Linked DNA regions of Homo sapiens. The protein of the gene in region 3 purifies or fractionates together with the protein of the main gene of each other region. This does not show direct contact. Each region holds a gene or a part of one and is shown on either strand. Other genes may lie near its edges.

Evidence for each region.
Region 1: the proteins of C1QTNF9 (region 3) and P3H3 purify together in Homo sapiens (affinity purification with mass spectrometry; 4 studies listed by BioGRID and IntAct, with this or other methods). This does not show direct contact.
Region 2: the proteins of C1QTNF9 (region 3) and TSNAX purify together in Homo sapiens (affinity purification with mass spectrometry; 3 studies listed by BioGRID and IntAct, with this or other methods). This does not show direct contact.

Annotation. Positions count from the first base shown.
Region 1 is NC_000012.12:6,824,308-6,831,406, forward strand, and holds the start of P3H3 (prolyl 3-hydroxylase 3 precursor), read left to right. Parts: upstream 1-4,099; 5' UTR 4,100-4,133; coding exon 4,134-4,631; intron 4,632-5,551; coding exon 5,552-5,704; intron 5,705-6,045; coding exon 6,046-6,247; intron 6,248-6,331; coding exon 6,332-6,463; intron 6,464-6,908; coding exon 6,909-7,045; intron 7,046-7,099. Other genes in the region: GPR162 (probable G-protein coupled receptor 162), read left to right, coding at 1-458, 1,177-1,366, 1,889-2,046, 2,346-2,897. UniProt on the Homo sapiens protein: Part of a complex composed of PLOD1, P3H3 and P3H4 that catalyzes hydroxylation of lysine residues in collagen alpha chains and is required for normal assembly and cross-linkling of collagen fibrils.
Region 2 is NC_000001.11:231,559,645-231,566,668, reverse strand, and holds the end of TSNAX (translin-associated protein X), read right to left. Parts: intron 5,542-7,024; coding exon 5,414-5,541; intron 2,142-5,413; coding exon 1,764-2,141; 3' UTR 145-1,763; downstream 1-144.
Region 3 is NC_000013.11:24,304,990-24,312,603, reverse strand, and holds the start of C1QTNF9 (complement C1q and tumor necrosis factor-related protein 9A precursor), read right to left. Parts: upstream 3,025-7,614; 5' UTR 2,988-3,024; intron 1-2,987. UniProt on the Homo sapiens protein: Probable adipokine. Activates AMPK, AKT, and p44/42 MAPK signaling pathways.

The DNA.
Region 1 (7,099 bases), on a different chromosome or scaffold from region 3:
CCGTCATGGGCATCTGGATGGTCAGCTTCATCCTCTCCACACTGCCCTCCATTGGCTGGCACAACAACGGCGAGCGCTACTATGCCCGCGGCTGCCAGTTCATAGTCTCCAAGATCGGCCTCGGCTTTGGCGTTTGCTTCAGCCTCTTGCTACTTGGGGGAATTGTCATGGGTCTGGTCTGTGTGGCCATCACCTTCTACCAGACACTGTGGGCCCGGCCCCGGAGGGCTCGGCAGGCCCGGAGAGTGGGGGGTGGTGGGGGGACCAAAGCGGGTGGGCCAGGGGCCTTGGGTACCCGGCCAGCTTTTGAGGTACCAGCCATTGTGGTGGAGGATGCCCGAGGGAAGCGGCGGTCCTCGCTGGATGGCTCGGAGTCTGCCAAGACATCCCTGCAGGTCACCAACTTGGTCAGCGCCATCGTCTTTCTCTATGACTCACTCACAGGGGTGCCCATCTTGGTGAGATCGGGGTCCTCCCCACCTGTTCTCCCCAATATCCAGGCCCCAGCATCATCACCTGACCTCCAACTTCATCAGCCATACAGCAGCTCCGTCATCTCTCCTCCAGTTCCATCATCCATCTTCCTCTCCTCTGTCCATCCCCCACTCCATTTGTGGCCCCCATCTTGATCATCTGTCTTTTAGTTCCCACTACCCTGTTTACCCCAGCTCCAGCATCTGCTTCAGTTCCCACTCCTCAGCTCCATCACCGTCCTTCAGTTCCACGACCTGTCCTCCAGCTCCGTCATCCATCCTGCAGCTCCACGGTTCAGCCGCAGACCTCTCATCCAGCCGCTGGGCTCCACTCTCCATTCCCTCCTTCCCTCGGGCTGCCACATGGTCTCTGAGCACTCTTGGCTGGAAATCCCACAGGGCTCACCCCACCACCCCATCTAGTCACTGTTCCTGGGTTCCTGTCTGTCTCTACGGTTCCTGGTCCACCTCTGTTCCTCTCCCTCCTGACCGCAGGGCTTTGTCTCCAGCACTCTCCCCGACCTTCCTCTGAGTCAGTCCCTTCCCTCTGTTCACTCCATCTCCACCTCCGGCTTCGCCTCTGTTGGAGCACAGGGATCAGGCATTACTTCTGACGTCTTGCCCACCAGCTGCACTAGGATATGGGGTTCAGGTGGGCTCCTCAGCTCTGGCCCTGACCCAGCCCGCTCCCACCCTTCCCCAGGTGGTGAGCTTCTTCTCCCTCAAGTCGGACTCGGCGCCCCCCTGGATGGTGCTGGCTGTGCTGTGGTGCTCCATGGCACAGACGCTGCTGCTGCCCTCCTTCATCTGGTCCTGCGAGCGCTACCGCGCCGACGTGCGCACAGTGTGGGAGCAATGCGTGGCCATCATGTCTGAGGAGGATGGAGATGACGGTCAGAGGAGGGGCTGGGCTTTGGCTTTCCTGGACATCTGTCTATTCCCTTTTCTGCCGCTCCTTCTCAGCCAGAGGATGGGCTGCCCTGGAGTGCCCCCTACTGGACAGAATCTGCACCACCCTGGGCTCCCCTTTCCCTAAGCAGGCACCCTGCTGTCCACTCACTGCTTCCCGCAGCACTCAGGGCTCCCTTCACTGGGCCTAGGCTCCCCTCCAGAAACCCACACTGCCCAGCTCTGGCACTATGGGGAACCTGAGCTTCCCGAGAGAGGCCCCCCAGCTATAGGGACGGCTCTTGGGGGAGTGCAGGCAATTGTTTCAATAACTTCATCTATATGTATGAAGCACTCCACTCAGGATTTAGCACTGAACGCAGCAAATGCTAGCCACTCTCACTGTCCTCTTGGAACATACATGCTAATGGGAACTAAAGGGGTCTCTGGGAGCTTATAAAGGCAGTGGTGGGAGGCCGCGGTAGGCATTCCCTACCTGTAACCACTCTGCCCATTTTCTCTCCTAGATGGGGGCTGTGACGACTATGCAGAGGGCCGAGTTTGCAAAGTTCGCTTTGATGCTAACGGAGCCACAGGACCAGGGAGCCGGGACCCCGCCCAGGTGAAGCTGCTGCCTGGAAGGCACATGCTCTTCCCTCCTCTTGAGAGAGTCCACTACTTACAGGTATGGAACTGGGGGATACATCTCCTACCCTTGGTGCCGCTCATCACTTTTCTCCAGTGTCTGTTAGGCACCCCAATCCCCTCTTCCCTAGCCCTGGCTTTCAGGGCACCATAGAGCTGGGTGAAAGAAAGCTATAGCAAGAGAGGCATCCCTTCAGACCTCGTGGGGCCAGGTTTGCCCACCGGAGCAAACGTTTTGAAGGTTAAGAAGGTGGCACCATCTTCCGGAGTCCCCACTTGGTTCCTGCCTCTGCCTCTGTCCCTGCAGCACCTTCAGGTCTTACCCGCTCCTCTTCCCAGGTCCCCCTATCCCGGCGTCTGTCCCATGATGAGACAAACATCTTCTCTACCCCTCGGGAACCAGGCTCCTTCCTGCACAAGTGGTCATCCTCTGATGACATCCGGGTCCTCCCAGCCCAGAGCCGGGCCCTCGGGGGTCCTCCTGAGTACCTGGGACAAAGACACAGGTTGGAGGACGAGGAGGACGAGGAAGAGGCTGAAGGTGGGGGGCTGGCCAGCCTTCGCCAATTCTTGGAGAGTGGGGTTCTGGGGTCAGGTGGGGGACCCCCACGGGGTCCTGGCTTCTTCCGGGAGGAGATCACCACCTTCATCGATGAGACACCTCTGCCTTCTCCGACTGCCTCACCAGGGCACTCTCCTCGTCGGCCCCGGCCACTGGGCCTCTCACCCCGCCGACTCTCCCTTGGGTCCCCTGAGAGCAGAGCCGTTGGACTTCCTTTGGGACTAAGCGCAGGGAGACGCTGCTCCCTGACGGGGGGTGAAGAAAGTGCAAGGGCTTGGGGAGGATCCTGGGGCCCAGGCAACCCCATCTTTCCCCAGCTGACCCTGTGAGCCCAAGCAGGCCTGCTGAACTCAGAGGAGAAAGCCTGAGTGAGTAACACCTCATTCTGGCCGAGAGTAGGGCAGCTGCCTCCAGACTCTGGGGAGACGGGCGCTAGATTTGGGGCTCAGAAGGCCCTGCTCTCTCCCATCCAAGTGACCAGATGCCCTACTCAGCTTCCATCACCCCTAGCAATATGTATTAAAGTCTGAAGTGTTGCCATGGAAACCTCAGTGTCCAGTGTACTGCGGTGGAAAGGGGCTTGGAGGGTGGAGTGGCTCACAGGGGACACGACAGAGCAGGGGCAGCAGACAGAGGCACAGAAGGACACATGGAGAAATGATCACATGCTCCACCAGGCAGCCTCGCACAGGGAAGGCTGGGAGGAGCATATCCTGCTGGGGGCGGGGCTTGAGGACACACATCTTCGTTGGTTGGGGTATGAAGGATCTCTGTTCAGATTTGTTGAGGTGGTTTTAGAGCGTGGCTCCAGCCCCAGTGCCCAACTCTCCTTCTAACCTCAAATCCATGCAGGGGCTCACTTTATGGGCAGGAAAGGTTTTGGGGCTGATGCAGTGTCCCGGGCCTGGACACCTCCTCCTTGCTGCATTTTAAAGCTCTTTCTCCAAAGGAGTGCAGGGGTGGATGAGTGTGTGTGTGGGCGGGGGTGGGAGTGCAGGGGTGGATGAGTGTGTGTGTGGGGGAGTGCAGGGGTGGATGAGTGTGTGGGGGGGGTGGGAGTGCAGGGGTGGATGAGTGTGGGGGGGTGGGAGTGCAGGGGTGGATGAGTGTGGGGGGGTGGGGGGGGGCGAGGGGGGGATCGGCGTCCACACTCCTTTTTCTGGACCCAGAAGCGTGTGTGTGGAGGGAACACAGCCCCAGTAGTTACCCCCAGACCTCAGGGGCTGAAGTCACCGCTGGGGCTGAAGTCATCCTTCATGGATGCCCAGGCCTGCTCCAGTTCCCGCCTTTTGCCCTCCTCCTCCCAGTTTCTCCCTCTTATTCCACACTAGACCAGCTTTGTCCACTCAGCACTCTTCTCTCTCCATCTTTTCACATGGGCCTCTCCCACCATCGGGTCTCAGCCCCATCTTCTCTCTCTCTCTCTCTCTCGGCCTCCCTCATTATTTCTCCCTCTCCCTCCGCCTCTCCATCTCTCCTTCCTCCCCCTCCCTCCCCTTCCCCCCTTTCCTCTCCCTCCCTCTCGGCTCCCGCATTTCCCCTCGGCTGCCGGCGGCTCCGACATCATGCTCCGGCTCCTCCGGCCGCTGCTGCTACTGCTGCTGCTGCCTCCCCCGGGGTCCCCTGAGCCCCCCGGCCTGACCCAGCTGTCCCCGGGGGCGCCCCCGCAGGCCCCCGACTTGCTCTACGCTGACGGGCTGCGCGCCTACGCGGCCGGGGCTTGGGCGCCGGCCGTGGCGCTGCTGCGGGAGGCGCTGCGGAGCCAGGCGGCGCTGGGCCGGGTGCGGCTGGATTGCGGGGCGAGCTGCGCGGCCGATCCGGGCGCCGCGCTCCCCGCCGTGCTTCTCGGGGCCCCGGAGCCCGACTCCGGGCCGGGACCCACGCAGGGGTCCTGGGAGCGACAGCTTCTCCGTGCAGCGCTCCGCCGCGCAGACTGCCTGACCCAGTGCGCAGCACGGAGGCTGGGCCCCGGGGGCGCGGCGCGGCTTCGCGTGGGGAGCGCGCTCCGGGACGCCTTCCGCCGTCGGGAGCCCTACAACTACCTGCAGAGGGCCTATTACCAGGTGGGGAGCGGGCCGGGCAGCTCCGAGGGTCCCAGCCCTCACCACGACGCTGTCCTACTTTGCGTTGCCCAGGAGTAGGCGGAATGCTGTTGCCCGGGCCCCGCACGGGGCTGGGGAGCGTACCGCGGGCCTCTGCGTAGGAGCTGGCTAAGCGACCGCGAGGACCTCTTGAGATCGCAGAGGAGCAGCCGAGGGGGAGTGCGAGCAGAATGGGAATGGGGCGGGGAGGTCGTGAGGTGGGACGGGAGCAGATCGAAGATGGAGGGACAGGGCCGCCTCTTCCTAGGAATGAAGCGGAGGCGGTGGGGGCGAAACCGGCTCTCGGACGGGAAGTGTGCGTGGGTGTGTGTGTGTGTCGGGGGTGGTGGTGAGTGTGAACCTTCGCTTGGGGCAGGAGGTAGCTTCGGAAAGGAAGGAGCAGACGGAGGCAAGGTTGGGGTCCTCCGAGGCCAGACCTCTGCGGGCGGGGAGGGGACAGCACGCCGCAGCCGCCGGTACCGCAGCAGTTGCCTACGTGGCTGGGGAAGCGGGGCGCCGGTTGTACTCACCTCAGCTCAGGGTCCTAGAGACCTGCGGGTTTTGCTGGTCGCTGAGGTCTCCCCCACTTCCCCACCTCACTTAAGCCATCACTTCCACCTGGTCTCCCAAATTGAGGTCCTGAAGTCCTGAGACCCATGTCCCACCCAACTCCGACGTCTTTAGATCCCCTTTCCCTCGGTGCCAGCCTTCTGAGAGTCCCAACGTTCTGGCCTCTAGGGGATCTGCAGTTCGGGCGGTGGGCGGTTCTGATTGGCCAGTCTTCCATGAGGCTCTGGGGCACCCAGAGTGTGTGTCTGGGGTAGGGTGGGGAGGCTGGCCAGGGGGCAGAGGTCTGCCCCCCGTCCCAGGGCTCTGATGCCCTCCTCCCTTCGCCTCCTCAGTTGAAGAAGCTGGATCTGGCAGCTGCGGCAGCACACACCTTCTTTGTAGCAAACCCCATGCACCTGCAGATGCGGGAGGACATGGCTAAGTACAGACGAATGTCGGGAGTTCGGCCCCAGAGCTTCCGGGACCTGGAGACGCCCCCACACTGGGTGAGAATCCCAGCACCACCCCTGTCTTGCCACCAGCCTTTTCCTGGCTGGATACACAGGCCTCACTAAACTGTGCGTTGTGCTGCTTGAGCATACAGATGGGGTAATGATCCTCAGCGACCCTGGCTGGGAGTCCTTCTCTAGGACTTCGTTTCCTTCCTGGATGATCACTGAAATCTGATGTTCTAACATTATGATTCTGAGGCCCACCCTTATTCTTCTCCACGGTGAAGAGGGACATGGAGTCCTTGCCCCAAATGAGACCAACACCCCTCTCCTCTCTACCTCCCAGTTTGGCAACCCCTGGATCTTAGGTGACTGACTGCTCCCTTCCCCAACAGGCAGCCTATGACACTGGCCTGGAGCTACTGGGGCGCCAGGAGGCAGGACTGGCACTGCCCAGGCTAGAGGAGGCTCTTCAGGGGAGCCTGGCCCAGATGGAGAGCTGCCGTGCTGACTGTGAGGGGCCTGAGGAGCAGCAGGGGGCTGAAGAAGAGGAGGATGGGGCTGCGAGCCAGGGGGGCCTCTATGAGGCCATTGCAGGTAAGGGTCCCGTGTGTGAGGGGGTGGGTCGGTGCCCAGGGAGGGGCATGAACAAGCTGAATGGCTTATGGGTTTCCTCTGCAGGACACTGGATTCAGGTCCTGCAGTGCCGGCAACGCTGTGTGGGGGAAACAGCCACACGCCCTGGTCGCAGCTTCCCTGTCCCAGACTTCCTTCCCAACCAGCTGAGGCGGCTACATGAGGCCCATGCTCAGGGTCAGTTGGGGAAGGGTGGAAACGGGGAGTGAAGATTTGCCTCTGCTGCTATCCTGAGCTCCATCTCTCTATCCCTCCCATCTGTCTCTGGATTTGTAGTTTCACTGTCAGGGCTGCATGGGAACCATCACTTCACAAGGACTCTAATTTGCCCTCCTTTGGCGCCTGTGACAAGCTCAGGAGATGGGCTTCCTTCTGCCTTGCTGCTTCTCACCTTCCTTTATTTTCCCCCCTCTTGCTCTTCTTTGAACTCTCCAGCTAAGGTATGTTTGCACCAGTGTTTGAAAGAACCGGCAGCTGAACTTGTCTGCCAGTGGGAAGGGGGCTCTTGGAGTTAGCTGTCTGGCCTCTGGAGACCACCTTCTCCAGCACTGCCTCTGCCCCAAGGATCAATGTGCTCTAAGTATTCATCCCCCAACCCCTGACCTTGTCGCTCCCTCTCCAGTGGGCAATCTGTCCCAGGCTATAGAAAATGTCCTGAGTGTCCTGCTCTTCTACCCGGAGGATGAGGCTGCCAAGAGGGCTCTGAACCAGTACCAGGCCCAGCTGGGAGAGCCGAGACCTGGCCTCGGACCCAGAGAGGTAATCCCCTCTCCACGCTCACCTGGGAGGTAGCCCCAAATCAAACAAATAGAC
Region 2 (7,024 bases), on a different chromosome or scaffold from region 3:
TAACACCCACAGTATTAGTATGACATGAACTGTGGAGATATATCAGTAGCAATGGCACCAACTCACCTGTAGTGAGTTGACTACAGGTGAGTTGCAAAACCAAAAAACCCACCATCACTAACACGAACAAACAAAAAAACAGAATTTACTAGGCATGTCCATGTTTTATTTTCTTTAGGTGTTTTTCTGGAAAATTACATTTTCAAGGAATCAGCCCTTACAAACAGAGCTAATCTTTCAAAAAATAAAACCCAGTATCTAGATTCTCAAAACTTACAAAACCAACTGGAAATGTCTGGTTGTCATGCTCAATTCAGTTTCACATCACAAGTAATCATCTATAACTATTTCAGTAGGCAAATTCCAATTCTAAATATTACTAACGATTACCATTGTTATTCTCAACTGTGTTGACAATTGTCTTATTGCTGAATTGTTCATAATACATCTTCTTTGGCAACTTTATTAACACCATGGGACAACTAAAGGTCTGGATTAACTTAGTATTTCAAAACTTCATTATAATTATTTAAAAGTAAATGCTAGACTTAAATTATTTAAATTTAAATGCTAGATTTAAATTATTTAATTTTAATAAAATTTAAATTTAAATGCTAGAATAGGAAAGCCTCCAAACATGCCTAATATAACAAAAACAAAAATTGCTAAATAATCACTACTAAAAGCATTTCCATTGTATGTACAAGTATATAACTCAACTTTACCAACAAAAATATTATAATTTAGCTCCAATTCTCTATCAGACCTACTGTGATTAAAAAAAAACAAAAAATAAATGGAGAAAGCAACATCTGGGCACCTGTCAAATTTTTATGGAAGGTTGTTTTATATAAATTTTAAATGGCTTAAAATCAGCCAGAATGCGAATTTTTCACTATAATACTTTATAAACTTGTACTTTCTTTTTTCTTTCTTTCTTTTTTTGAGATGGAGTCTTGCTCTGTTACCCAGGCTGGAGTGCAGTGGCGCAATCTCGGCTCACTGCAACCTCTGCCTCCCAGGTTCAAGCGAGTCTCCTGCCTCAGCCTCCCAAGTAGCTGGGATTACAGGCACATACCACCATATCCAGCTAATTTTTGTATTTCTAGTAGAGACGAGGTTTCGCCACGTTGGTCAGGCTGGTCTTGATCTCTTGACCTCGTGATCTGCCTACCTCGGCCTCCCAAAGTGCTGGGATTACAGGCGTGAGCCACCACGCCCAGCCTAAACTTGTACTTAAATTATATATTGATAGCTTATTCATTTTTAATTCTTGTTCCATGGAATAAGCCTATTTTTGAGGCTTGGCACGATATTAACAAGAAATTTAAACAGGACGCTCATGTCCAGAAGTTTAACTAAAAAATCTTTTCTATATATAATATAACTACCAACTTAAATTACAAATTGCTTCCACTAAAAATTATCACTCCAAACTTCAGAAAAAGTAAATTAAAATAGGTTATGGCAAAAGGTACACTCTGAAGCATGTTCACATTACAAAGATAAATGATAAAGGTTAACCAGCAAAAATTCAAAAAGGCATATATGCAAACATCTGTATGCAAACTTTCATGAATAAGATATAAGAAATGATTCATTTGGCTAATTTTATGTACAGCTTGTATACAATTTAAAACAAGTACAACTGAATATGTTTCTATGTAAAAGCCACAATAAAGTTAAATGAAATACTAAATAAGTCTTACAAATTGGTCTCTTAGGAGTTCTCAAAAGAATTAGTAACTGAGTAACGTTAGATTCTAAGAAATGCCCTCTTCTTGATCTATCATTTCTGTTTTAACTGAAAACACATCTGCCAACATATGTTTTGGAATTTCTGACCCTCTGACTTTCAAGGCATAACAAGCATTCTCCACTTTGGCCAAACTTTGTTTCAAGGTATACAGCTTCTTAGAAACCTCGTAAGGTCCAGTGTTGCCAATGAATGAAAACCCATCATAAACCTGACGTAAAAACTGGCTCACTTCAAAGGGGGTATCAATGTCCCCATTCCCCACACTGTTAATACACATCCGCATCAATTCTCCAGTTAAGTCAGCCACTCCCAGAAGGTAATCGACAGGTGTGACTCTCAGTCTCCAAGTACCAAACTGCTTATCCTGTGCATCAGAGGAGGGCTGGTAAAAAAACAAAACAAAACAAAAACACACACACACACACACAAGAAAGAACACTGTGAAAAAGAGTGAATATAGCATGTATCACATTTATTATAGAAGTACAAAATCAATAGCAAATCAGTCATACTAATTTTTTCTAAATAAAATAAATCTGTTTTGCTTAATAACCACTTGGGATGTTACAGGAGGAATGTGTGCCCTGGGTAGTGAAATGAACCAGATGACTTCAAGATACTTTTGAAATATATCATTATGAAACCAACTATTTCCAACTCCACTTGATGTACAAAATAAAAATATTCTTGAACAAGGCTTAATAACTTTATTGCACGACAATTACTTTCTTAAATGAAAAACCATACAGCCCTCCAAGTTTGTGATCCATTAATGTTTTCCTAAGAAGCTCAGTCTTTTTCTGGCTTCTTGTCTTTCCCTATTCAGCACTCACCATCACAATTTATTATTCTCTCACTGCATCCTCAATTCCCTTAGACTGCTATATTTTCTACTGCACCTACCCAGCAAAAACAGAATCCTCAATCAATACTAAAATATACTCATTAGTCCTTTATTCAGGTGGCTGAGTACCACTCACTGAGTTAAAAAAAAATGGTAATCACAACTGCAGAGTCTGTACCGCTACAAATTACTCTCCAATCCTTTTACTTATCATTAGATGGTTCTCTTTCCAGCCTCTTCAAACACAATTTCAAACCTTTCACCACTCTCCTCAGGGCTCTACTCAAATCCCAAACCTCTTCACTTTCAGTAGACAACCTTGCCCAATTTCAGTGACCTGGTCATTTGCCAGCTTACCTAGCACAATTTCTCACAACTGCCTTTATCCCTACCAAAAAAAAAAAAAAAAAAAATTTATATCCACACCCATCTTTACCTTCTATCCTCCAGTCTCAGATGATGAGTTGTCCCTCCTCTTGTTTGAGGTTAACTCTTCCAAATGACCTTGACCCATCTCCTCCCACCTCTTCCAGGACCTTGCTTCATAAGGTGTATGCCCTTGGGCAAGTTATTTCATCTCTCTAAACCTCAGTTTCCTCATCTGTAAAATGGGATAACAGTACCTACCTCAGAGGTTTATTTTAAGGGTTAAATGAGAACATTTACCAAGTTCTTGGCATAATGCCCAACACAAAGTAAATATTCAACAAATGCTAGCTGCTATCATGATATCATCATGAAATCTCTCTCCACATCAATTTCCCTCTACTGAATTCTTTCTGGTAGAGACGATGCCTAAATTGTTATTAAAAGACGGTATGTATAAAAGGGTAGGTGAAGTTGCAGTTACATCAAAGGACATTTTAGGTAGTGGGAACTACAAAGGCATACAGGTAAGAATTGTGCATTTGAGGAACTAATGAGATAATTCTTTTGAGTAAAGTTTAAAGGAAGTTACATAAATATAAGCTGAGACAAGGGAGACAGCTTTATTAAGATCACTCTTTGCTATGTATCTAATACTTGAATCCTAGCACTGTTTGGACTCTGCAGAGACCATTTGGTGCAACGTCCTCATCATTTAGCATGAGAAATGAGGTCCGAGAAACATCACAGGTAATATGACGTTGAGCTATGGGAATATGATAGCTAGTTAGTGGCACTAATGTTTCCATTCTATTTTTCTGCATGTTTGAAATTTTTCACAAAACTTTTTAAAATAAAAATTAAATAGTTTTGACAATATTCTCAACAGGCAAGTCAGAGCAAAATACCTTTCCCAATCAAATTCCCAGAAATTTCAGCACCAAGCATCTTTAGCACTAAAACTTATTTATGAACATAGTCTTATACAATTTGAAACATGTATATGAATATTATAGCCCCATAATCTTAAAATAATCTGGTACCTAAGTCCTGAAAACAGTACTTTGACTCTCAATTTTCTGGCCTTTTCCCCAATATTTTCATTTTGATACACAGAGAACTTTAAAGGAAAGTGTGGTAACTTCCCTAATATCACGTGAGAAGCAGGGTCAAATAGACCTACTTTACTTCTTTGTGTAATTCAGTCTACACTATATGAATAAAAAATATGAAGAAATTTTACTTCTCAAAATAAATTTCCTCCTTAATACACTTCATATAACTTAAAGTTAATACATGGCTTCCTTAAAGTAAGTTATACCTGTCATGCCAAATTAGTCTCATTTGTATTAATATTTTAGTTGATATTCAAGAAAATATTATTTCTACAGTGTCTTCCATCTCCTGCCTACCTATCCTTAATATATGGTGTTTTTAAAAATAATTTTTAAAAGAAAAAATAAAGAAAATTTTTAAAATAATTAAATATTTAATATTTAGTAAATTAAATTAATAATTTAATAATTTAATATTTAAACAATTATTTAAATAATATAAATTATTTTAAAATATTTAATTTTAAGTGTACTGGTATCTCAGAAAGTATCAAATAGTCAATACAGCTTACCTTACTGCCTGTTATATCTTGAAACCCAGAAGGAAAAAAATAGTATTTGTTTAAAAGTCAAACTGCAAAGTTTTTCTTAATTCAGAAAAGCTACATAAATTTCAGATATAAGCATTATGAATTGAGTAAATGATTAACAGCTCTCACTATATAAAAACTACTTTATAATGGCAAACTACTGAGCACTTCCGTGTCAGGTGCTGTATATAATGTATATTACGTGTCAGGTGCTGCTGTATATTGCCTAATTAATAACCTTTAAGTCAAATCCTTTAAAACAACCCTTTGAGGTAGGTACCTGATGCAAGGGATCCCTGTAGCACACTGTGAGAAGCGCTGGCAGAGTGGACAAGGGCACAGGCTTGGATTCAAAATACCTAACTTCAAATCTTAGCTCTGCCACACTTTTTAGTTGTGGCTTCTGGCAAGTTACTTAACCTCTCTAAAAGTCTGTTTCTTTCTCTGTAAAATGAGAGTAATAATGCTTACCACATATGGTTAATAAAAGGATTAAATAAGACAGTGCTTACAAAGGGCAAGTGAAAAATAGAGAGTAAAACCAAAAGAGGACTTACAGTAAGCACTCCATAATGCTTTAGGTAAAGAGCATTACTTTCCCAATATGCCCAGAGTTGTTCTTGTTCTATCCACTAACTGAAATATTTAAAAAGACCATTTCCTAGTTGAGACTCTACAAAACCATACTTTAGAAAGAACATTCCCATCTCAATCTTAGCATAAGCCAGTAAATCTACTAGAATCGTCATACTGTTACATAAATTATATAACAAATGTGAAATAAATTTTAAATTCTCACAGTTTTATTTTCTTTCCCATTGTCTTCAGTCGTAAATATCAATTGTTTATTAATTTCATCCATACTAATTAATGATCGTGTTTTGATGAAGTGTTGAAAAGAGACAGCTTCCACATATTCCTGTAGTCCTGAAAGCGTGACAAAGAAAATTACTAAGAATAAGCACTTAATTAGTAAGAATGTCATAATAAAAAAACTTCATATTGATCATCATCTAGTTCAAAAAAAAGCTTAATGGATGCCTACTACAATGCCAGTACTAGACTAGACACTTAGAATAGAAAGAATGGCCTGGGGACCAGGCGCGGTGGCTCACGCCTGTAATCCCAGCACTTTAAAAGGCCAAGGCGGGTGGATCACTTCAGGTCAGGAGATGGAGACCAGCCTGGCCAACACAGTAAAACCCCAACTCTACTAAAAATACAAAAATTAGCTGGACATGGTGGCGGGCGCCTGTAATCTCTGGGCCACTGTGCCCAGCCAGAAAAAAAATTTTTTTAAGAGTTTAAGTAATTAGGATTTAAGAAAAGCTTATTCTGGCCGGGCACGGTGGCTCACGCCTGTAATCCCAGCACTTTGGGAGGCTGAGGTGGGCGGATCACCTGAGGTCAGGAGTTTGAGACCATCCTGGCCAACATGGCGAAACCCCATCTCTACTAAAAATACAAAAAATATTAGCCGGGTGTGGTGGCAGGAGCCCGTAATCCCAGCTACTCGGGAGGCTGAGGCAGGAGAATCGCTTGAACCCAGGAGCCGAAGGTTGCAGTGAGCCAAGACCGCACCATTGCACTCCAGCCTGGGGGACAAGAGCGAGACTTCGTCTCAAAAAAAAAAAAAGGGGGGGGGGGGAGAAAAGAAAAGCCTATTCCATAATTTTGATAGGCTTTAATAAAAATTATATAAATTAATTTGTTTTATTTTGCTGGGTAACGAAGCAATGATTCAAACAAATGAGACATAAAATTAAGAATCATTTGGGCCGTTCACGATGGCTCACGCCTGTAATCCCAGCACTTTGGGAGGCCCAGGCGGGTGGATCACGAGGTCAGGAGATCCAGACCATCCTGGCTAACATGGTGAAACCACATTTCTACTAAAAATAAAAAAACTTAGCCGGGCGTGGTGGCGGGCGCCTGTAGTCCCAGCTACACAGGAGGCTGAGGCAGGAGAATGGCGTGAACCCGGGAAGCAGAGCTTGCAGTGAGCCAAGATCATGCCACTGCACTGCGGCCTAGGCGGCAGAGCGAGACTCGTCGCAAAAAAAAAAAAATAATAATAATAATAATAATAATTTGGATCTTTCTTAAAGTTTTAATAGGCAAAATCACTTTTAACTAATGTAGGTAAGTGTCAAAATACCGTTTATCTTTTCATAGTTCAAAATGGATCTAAGACTAGATAACTCCTTTCTGCTTTGGTAGTTTAAGAAAAAAAAAAGAGAGCTATGCAATACAATTTTGTACAAGACAGAAACAACCCTTGAATTGAAGAGTAAATTTTGGTAAAGATCAAAATGTAACTTAAATACTTTTAAAAATGTTTATATAAATGTAAAGGGCACAAGTGCAATTTTGTTACATGTCTACAGTACTATACTTTTCCAAGTGTTTT
Region 3 (7,614 bases):
AAGGTTGAGGATTTGCACAAGGAATATAGAAGAAATTATATTAATGTTATTTTGAAAAATAAAAAATTACATTTGTGCCTCTCACAAAGCTATGGGTTGGACCCTCAGTTTCATTAGTTCAACTACAGTTACACTCTTGACTTTTAATTTCTGGGTCTGGTCTTTTCCCAGAAGGCACTAGAGCTAGGAGCCTCTTCTGTCTCCCATCTTTCCCTGCAATCATCCACTCTCTCTCTCATCTGAATTACTGTCCTCCCCAGTCCCCACTTACTCTGTACACCACACCTAGACTAATGATCACTTAGTAGGCACCAACCTGGGTTAGAGCTTTATGAAGATGGTGACTGCATTTTTCTACTTCCTTATTTTCAGTCAAGTATTTGTTGAATGAATCAATGCAGGCATGCAAGAAATACTATCCTGGTTCCAACTGTGTGTGGACCATCACTTGGGAAGGTGACTGGGTATCAACTCTGATCCTTGTCAGTGCTTTCGTGGAGTTGCTAGTAATCTCCAACACCCCTTCTCACCTTCATCCAGAGTAATAGAAATTTTAGCTGGGCTTCTAGGGGCCCATGATAGACTGCACTCCCTAGCCTCCCTTGCAGCCTGGGTATGACCATGAGCTAGATTACGGGCCATGGGGATGAGCAAAAGTGAGACGTGTAATTGTGTGCAATGACCGGCCTTAAAGGGTAAGGGGGTGCCCTTTCCCGCTTCCTGTGGGGGGGTGTGCATGGCATGGTGAACCATGTGGGACTCCTTGAAGGAGGGCAACAATTTGGGGATAGAAAAACCCCTGGCCTCAGATGACTCCACAGACCAGACCTGCCAGCACATCTTTGACATAAGCATATGAAACAGAAATAGACTTCTATCTTGCATAAGCCACTGTTATTTGGGGTCTTGACACACAGCTGAGCCCACATCCTAATTCAAGGCATGCGCTGCCCAAGGTGCGGCCGCTCTTCAGAAGTGAGGAGGCTTGCAGACATCTGTAGTCAGCCAGAGTGACAGCTGCTGGGGACTCACTGGGCATACAACCCTCCCAGTAATATATGTAAAAAGCGACAACAGTCACTGCCTTGGACAAATCAAGACAAGATCTCTATACATTGATATCATATGTATGTATAGAGAATAGAGGCCATCATTCTGCAGAATGCTGTGACCGCATGAGCCAGACATACTGGCATGGTCAGGGCAAAGGGACACAGACTGCAAATAACTTTGAAGTTAATGTTTTTTAGTCCCCCCAAAATAGTGTTCTTATTTAGTTCACTTATTTCTGACTCATTCTCCGATTCTTTACCTATATCTGTCCTTTGCTAAAGAATCTCTTGATAAATGGTCACCCAGTGCCCTCTTCCTGATTAATTTTCTCCAAGAACATCATATCCTTAATTCTACAGCCAAGGTTATCACTCCTCAAGATTCTTAACTCTCCAAAACTAAGATTTAATGTAAACCTGCTAGAAATCAGCTGAGTGATATCTCCTGGGTTTCCAAACCTCAGAGCCTCAGCTTCCTCCTGCATGCACTGGAAAGGACGAATGCCCTCCCGGATCTGACGATCTAAGAGTCAAAATAGCTCTAGGCTGCCTTCATCGAATATATTGTCTTCCATGCACTCTCTATATTACACACTTTATACATTTCTTCAACATATCTTTTTTTTTTTTTTTTTTTTTTGAGACAGAGCCTCGCTCTGTTGCCCAGGCTGGAGTGCAGTGGCGCGATCTCGGCTCACTGCAAGCTCTGCCTCCTGGGTTCACGCCATTCTCCTGCCTCAGCCTCCCGCGTAGCTGGGACTACAGGCGCCCACCACCACGCCTGGCTAATTTTTTGTTTTTTAGTAGAGACGGGGTTTCACCTTGTTAGCCAGGATGGTCTTGATCTCCTGACCTCATGATCCACCCGCCTCAGCCTCCCAAAGTGCTGGGATTACAGGTGTGAGCCACCGCGCCCAGCCTTCTTCAACATATCTTGACAGTTATTTTTTTCCTGCACTGTAAATTAGCATAGCCATAAAAATGAAAATGTGTACAATCTGAATATGATGAACCTGATCAGGAAAAAAAAGTACACATTAAAATTTGTGCAAAATAATCTATAAGCTTCTCTAGAAAGCTCTCTTAAAAAGATCCATCATAGGCCGGGCGTGGTGGCTCATGCCTGTAATCCCAGCACTTTGGGAGGCCGAGGCAGGCGGATCACGAGGTCAGGAGATCGAGACCACAGTGAAACCCCGTTTCTACTAAAAATACAAAAAAAAAAAAAAAAGTAGCCAGGCGCGGTGGCAGGCTCCTGTAGTCCCAGCTACTCAGGAGGCTGAGGCAGAAGAATGGTGTGAACCCGGGAGGCGGAGCTTGCAGTGAGCTGAGATCCTGCCACTGCACTCCAGTCTGGACAACAGAGTGAGACTCTGTCTCAAAAAAAATCCCAGCACTTTGGGAGGCCAAAGCGGTTGGATCATAAGGTCAGGAGTTCAAGAGCAGCCTGGCCAAGATGGTGGAACCCCATCTCTACTAACAATACAAAAATTAGCAGGGTGTGGTGGCCCATGTCTGTAATCCCAGCTACTCGGGAGACTGAGGCAGATAATTGCTTGAACCCGGGAGGCGAGGTTGCAGTGAGCTGAAATCATGACACTGCACTCCAGCCTGGGCGACAGAGCAAGACTACATCTGAAAAAAAGAAAAAAAGCCCACTATTCTTATGACTTATTCTATGGTTTTTCTCTCTCCTCCCAGCCAATTGCAGAGTTCCAGCAGAAGAATTTCAAAATCTGCTTTTATCTCCTCTTTAGCCTCTTCCTCAAGAATGAATTTTGAAAGCGGCTTACCCCTTTCCTACCCAAAACTGTATAGACATCTGACTATTTTGCAAATAACTAAGCAGGATTATCCCACAGATAATATAAGCGTTGTTTTAGGACCTAGATGGCTTAAATTGAATGTAAAGAAATCCTTTCCTGATGAACTTACCTGGACCCTAGGGCTGCAGGCTGGACCCAGATACTGTGCAAACCAAGAATCAAGGGCCAGCTAAATAAAATCAGCCTTCCTGCCATACAATTCCCCAGTGGATATGTCTGCAAAATAGCAGGAAGGGGAGGGAACAGAGGAAGGCCAAGATGTCTTGGAAGAGCTTCAAGAATTACAGCAACACGTAAATCAGGTAGCATATTCTACCAGCACCACTTAGTTTAGAAAAGTTAAATCCTTTTGAATGAAATGAGGGAATACTTTCAAGGGGAGTCTGAAGGAAGGAGTGCCCCAGGCAGGTTTCTTTCATATATATATATATATATATATATAATACTTTAAGTTCTAGTGTACATGTGCACAACGTGCAGGTTTGTTACATATGTATACATGAGCCATGTTGGTGTGCTGCACCCATTAACTCCTTTCTTTTTCAAAGTGATGTTCATGCCTTTGCTTCAGTGCTTCTCCCTGACCTTGGGGTAATTACGGGCAACAGGACAAAACTGAAGGCTGCTAACTGTTAAGTGGCTGGGTCTCATTTGGATCCCGGACCATTAGAATTCCTACCGCTTAATTAGATTTTCAGATGGGTGTGTCGTAATGCCTTACGAGTTTAGGCATTTGTGTAGGTAAGGATTCAGTGTCCATTCCCCTCTCACAATCACACACTCCACCTACCACGGAGAACGCGGTGCAACCATTTGTTCAATGCCAGTAATCATGGACTCACTTTCCTCGTGTCTAGTAGTAACATTTATCTAAAACTTACAGTAGCTTCCAGAGGACAGAGGAGCCCAGCCCGGTTTCCCGAGATGCCGCAGTGCACGCAGCAGGAGCAGAGGCCACGCACAGAGCAGGAGGCCACGCAAAGAGCAGGAGCAGAGGCCGGGTGTACGGGTGGGTGCGGGGCTCACCCCAGCTCGGCGGCGAGGCCACGCACAGAGCAGGAGCCCACGCACAGAGCAGGGGCAGAGGCCGAGTGTACGGGTGGGTGCGGGGCTCGCCCCAGCTCGGCGGCGCCGACTCCCTCTCCCGCCTTACTCGCCCCCGTGCCTCAATTTCCCCGTCAGTGCAGCGGACATGACAATGCCGTGGTCCCAGGTGGGCGGCGGGATCTAATTAGTCGGTGTAAAATGAGTGAGATCTGGCTTCTCCCCGGCACCCCGCAGCCTGCCCCCACTCTTGGTGGCTAAACGCAAGGAGCCCCTGAGTCCCAGCTCCGCTGGGGGCTCTCAGCAGTTCTGGCCGGGCTCCCTCTTGCTCGCGTGGCTGGTCTCTGACCCCTGCACCGCAGGCGGCCCCGACGGAACGCGCGACGGGTCCCCGACCTCCTGCTGGGGACACCCGTCTCGCTGCCCGGCCCTTCCCCGCTTCCCGCGCCTCTGCGCCCCGGAGAGCTCTGAGACAGGACCACCTGGGCAGCCTGCCGGCCTGGACCTCTGCCTCAGAGCCAGCGACGGAAGCACAGCCTCGGGCCTCCACCGGCCACGCGCTCCCCATTCCGGGCTCTCCCACGTCTGCACACTCCAGCCCAGCCACGCGGAGAGGCTTCCAGAACCTGCCCTGCGGCCCCGCTTTGCTGACACCCCACTCACTCCGTGGGTTCTTCCTCCCGCCAGGACCCTGCCGGGGCCTGGGGTCCGTGGGAAGCCGGCTCAGGAATCAGGATCCTGGCCTCCTGCTTACAGGGAAAAGGGCTCCATCCTCCTGGTGTTTCCCGACTGCAGCGCCTCCAGCCTCCGGGGCTGCTGCGGCCCAGGTTCAGCTGGGTTCACTCCAGCTTTGCTGGTCTCGCCAGTGCAGAGTAGGGGCGCGCTTATGACCTAACGGTCATCTCCCCACAACTCTCCTGGAAGAAAATGCCACCCCCATCTCTTTCACTGTGTCCTATACATGGAGCCACTATGCTCTGCCCTATGGGTTCTGGGGCTCGCCCCCTCCCCACCCTAGCGACCGCCCTTCCCCAGTGCAGCCCAAGGTTGGGAGGAGCAGATCACTTTGGGAAGCAGGTGGATATTAAGAGTAAACAAAAAGTGGGCAGTAGCCACTTGGCAGCCTTCATAGGAATCCTTTTCTGATTACAGCCACAGCAAACAATGGGCTGTTGACTTAGCTCTTCTGAGCTGTTGGAGAAGGAAATTCTAATCTACCCACCCGCAAAGGGCGAGTGAGCAGGGCCACTAGCACAGCTCCTGTGGCAGGGCCTAGCCTTCAGGGGCAGTCAGAGGGCACAGTCTGTTGTTCTGTCTCCTCTCCATGATCCCTAGCAAAAGCGGCCCCGCCCCACTGCTCCCTTCCGCATCCCTCTTACTCCAACCACTGACGTTTCTCAAGCCAGGGTGCCCTCCGAGGTTGCCCTCGGAGCCCCCCTTCTCCCACGCCTACCCAGTGGTTACATGGAGCTCCTGAATGGATGAGTTGTTGCCACTGAGAAGTCTAGGGACATCAGGGCAGCAGAGGAGCTACAAATCCCAGAAGCCCCCGCACCCAGCTCTCCACTTCCTCCTTTTAAAGGCTGCTACTCAAATGCATCATCAGAACGAGTTTGGCAAATGAATTTTAATATACAAAACAACAAATATAGATTCACAGCATTTAAAAAAATCATTCAAATAACATTGTAAATAATTTTTTTTTACAAAAAACTTCAACAAAAATACATATCAAGTTACATCAATCTTGTACACTATACTTTGGCTGTCAACAGCAAATTCCTCAGTTCAGAAGTCCCATTCTTTGACCTATACAGATGACACATCATCTTGAAGTTAATGAGCTAAAATGTTGCCCAAAGCCTTGCAAAGTAGGTTAGCGAGTCATACAGAATGGACACTAATATTTACAAAAAAAGATTAGAAAGATTAAAAGTATTTTCTAAATATAAAATGTCAGTGCCTGTGAGATAACTAAAGGCAACAATGTAAAGTATGTTGTAGCTAAGTAAACTTGTATCAAATATTTAAGCTTTTGCTTTTTTTTTCAAGATCAGTCATGTTCCACTTATTTTTCCAAAGCCTTTTGAAATCCACTTTCATTGCATCCTGAAAACAATGAGACTTTAATAGAACAATTTGCAGATTAGGTTATTATGGGAAAGCTGGGTCTGCTAGTAGTTTCACCTAGTTGACTTGGGTCCTCCATTTCTGGCCTGTGAGCTGGTGAAAGGACATTTATTCATACTTCTTGACACTCCTTTGAGGGACAATTCTAAGTTTCTTCTCTCCCTGACAAGTAATAGTGCAGAAATACTCCCCCTAACTCCAGGTAATTATGCTGTTCTATTCTGACTGGGACACCAAGTTGATCTGCATGAAGGAGTATCAGCAATTTGGCTTGCAGAGATTTCCACCTGATAAAATGCTGGTTCAGCTGGCTTTTACAAAATACTTATATTGTGAACCAAATTTTGAATTAAATGCACTTTGCTTTATGTCTAGATAACAGTCATGTAGGATGGGGGGATTTTCTGAATAAGAATGGCATCGGTTTTCATCTAGGCTAGGTATAAAAAGGCACAATATTCAGAAATAGTGTTTGATGGTGGTGAAATGTTTTCAACTACAAAATCAGATCTACAGTGGGAAACAAAAATCAGATCTAATGAAAAGAAACCATGTGGCTGGTATCCCAGGGAAGCTCCAGCATACTACTGCTGCCCTCTTTCTAGTCCGCAGGCCAAAGACAAAGAAATCTACTGCTCCAGGATTCTGCAAACATTCAATTTTATGATTTTATAATTGCTTTTAATCTACGGCAGGGTTTTTATATGTTTTAGGTATGATCACAATTGAAAAGGTTGCTTTTGACCCAAGGCTACTTCAATTATCTTCTAACAAAGTCGACCAATTCTGAAACGTGAAGAATGGAATAGGTGAAATTCATCAAAATGTTATGTCATCTTTTCTTTTCTTGGCCCATCTATAATATTATGTAAAGTAAGGTTAAAAAGAGAGAAAGGCATAGAGGCGGGAGAGAGCAAGATTCCCAATGAAATTCATACACTGTCCATGGAGGAGGCTCTCTGTTCCCTTTCTTTCCAAGTGGAACACGTGACTCAAATCAGGAAGGAAGTTTGGCAAATGGAAGATGAGAATACTTGAGCCTTCCATTCTTGAAGAACTCAGGCATGTGGTAATAAAACCCAAGCCAGACATGCAGATTTTCAAGAAGTCAAAGGATGTTCTAGCCTTTTAAAAATGTTAGCAGTTTTCAAAATCACCTGAACATCCAAGTAGGATCCACCCAGGAGAGATCTTTAATGGAGTGACCCTCACACTCTATAAAACTGACAGGGGCAACGAATTGAACCTGACTTAACAAAAACACATCCTGGTATTCATAAGTCTCTGTTAGGAAGTCCGTGGAGGTAGGTGGGAGCCGGAAGTTAGGGCTCAGCTGGAAAATAAATTAGGACTGGCCACAAAATGCAAACCATTTCTTCATTACCCATGAATAAATATTAGGAAATGGAAGTCCTAAGAATGACTCTTAAACTGAATCCTCACTGAAAATGTAACACAAGCAAATGATTCTCTTTACTTCCTTAAACTAATTCTCTTATATTACATTTAAAACAATTTGTTCAAAATTGCTGTACATACAAACAACTCTAGCAGAGACCCCT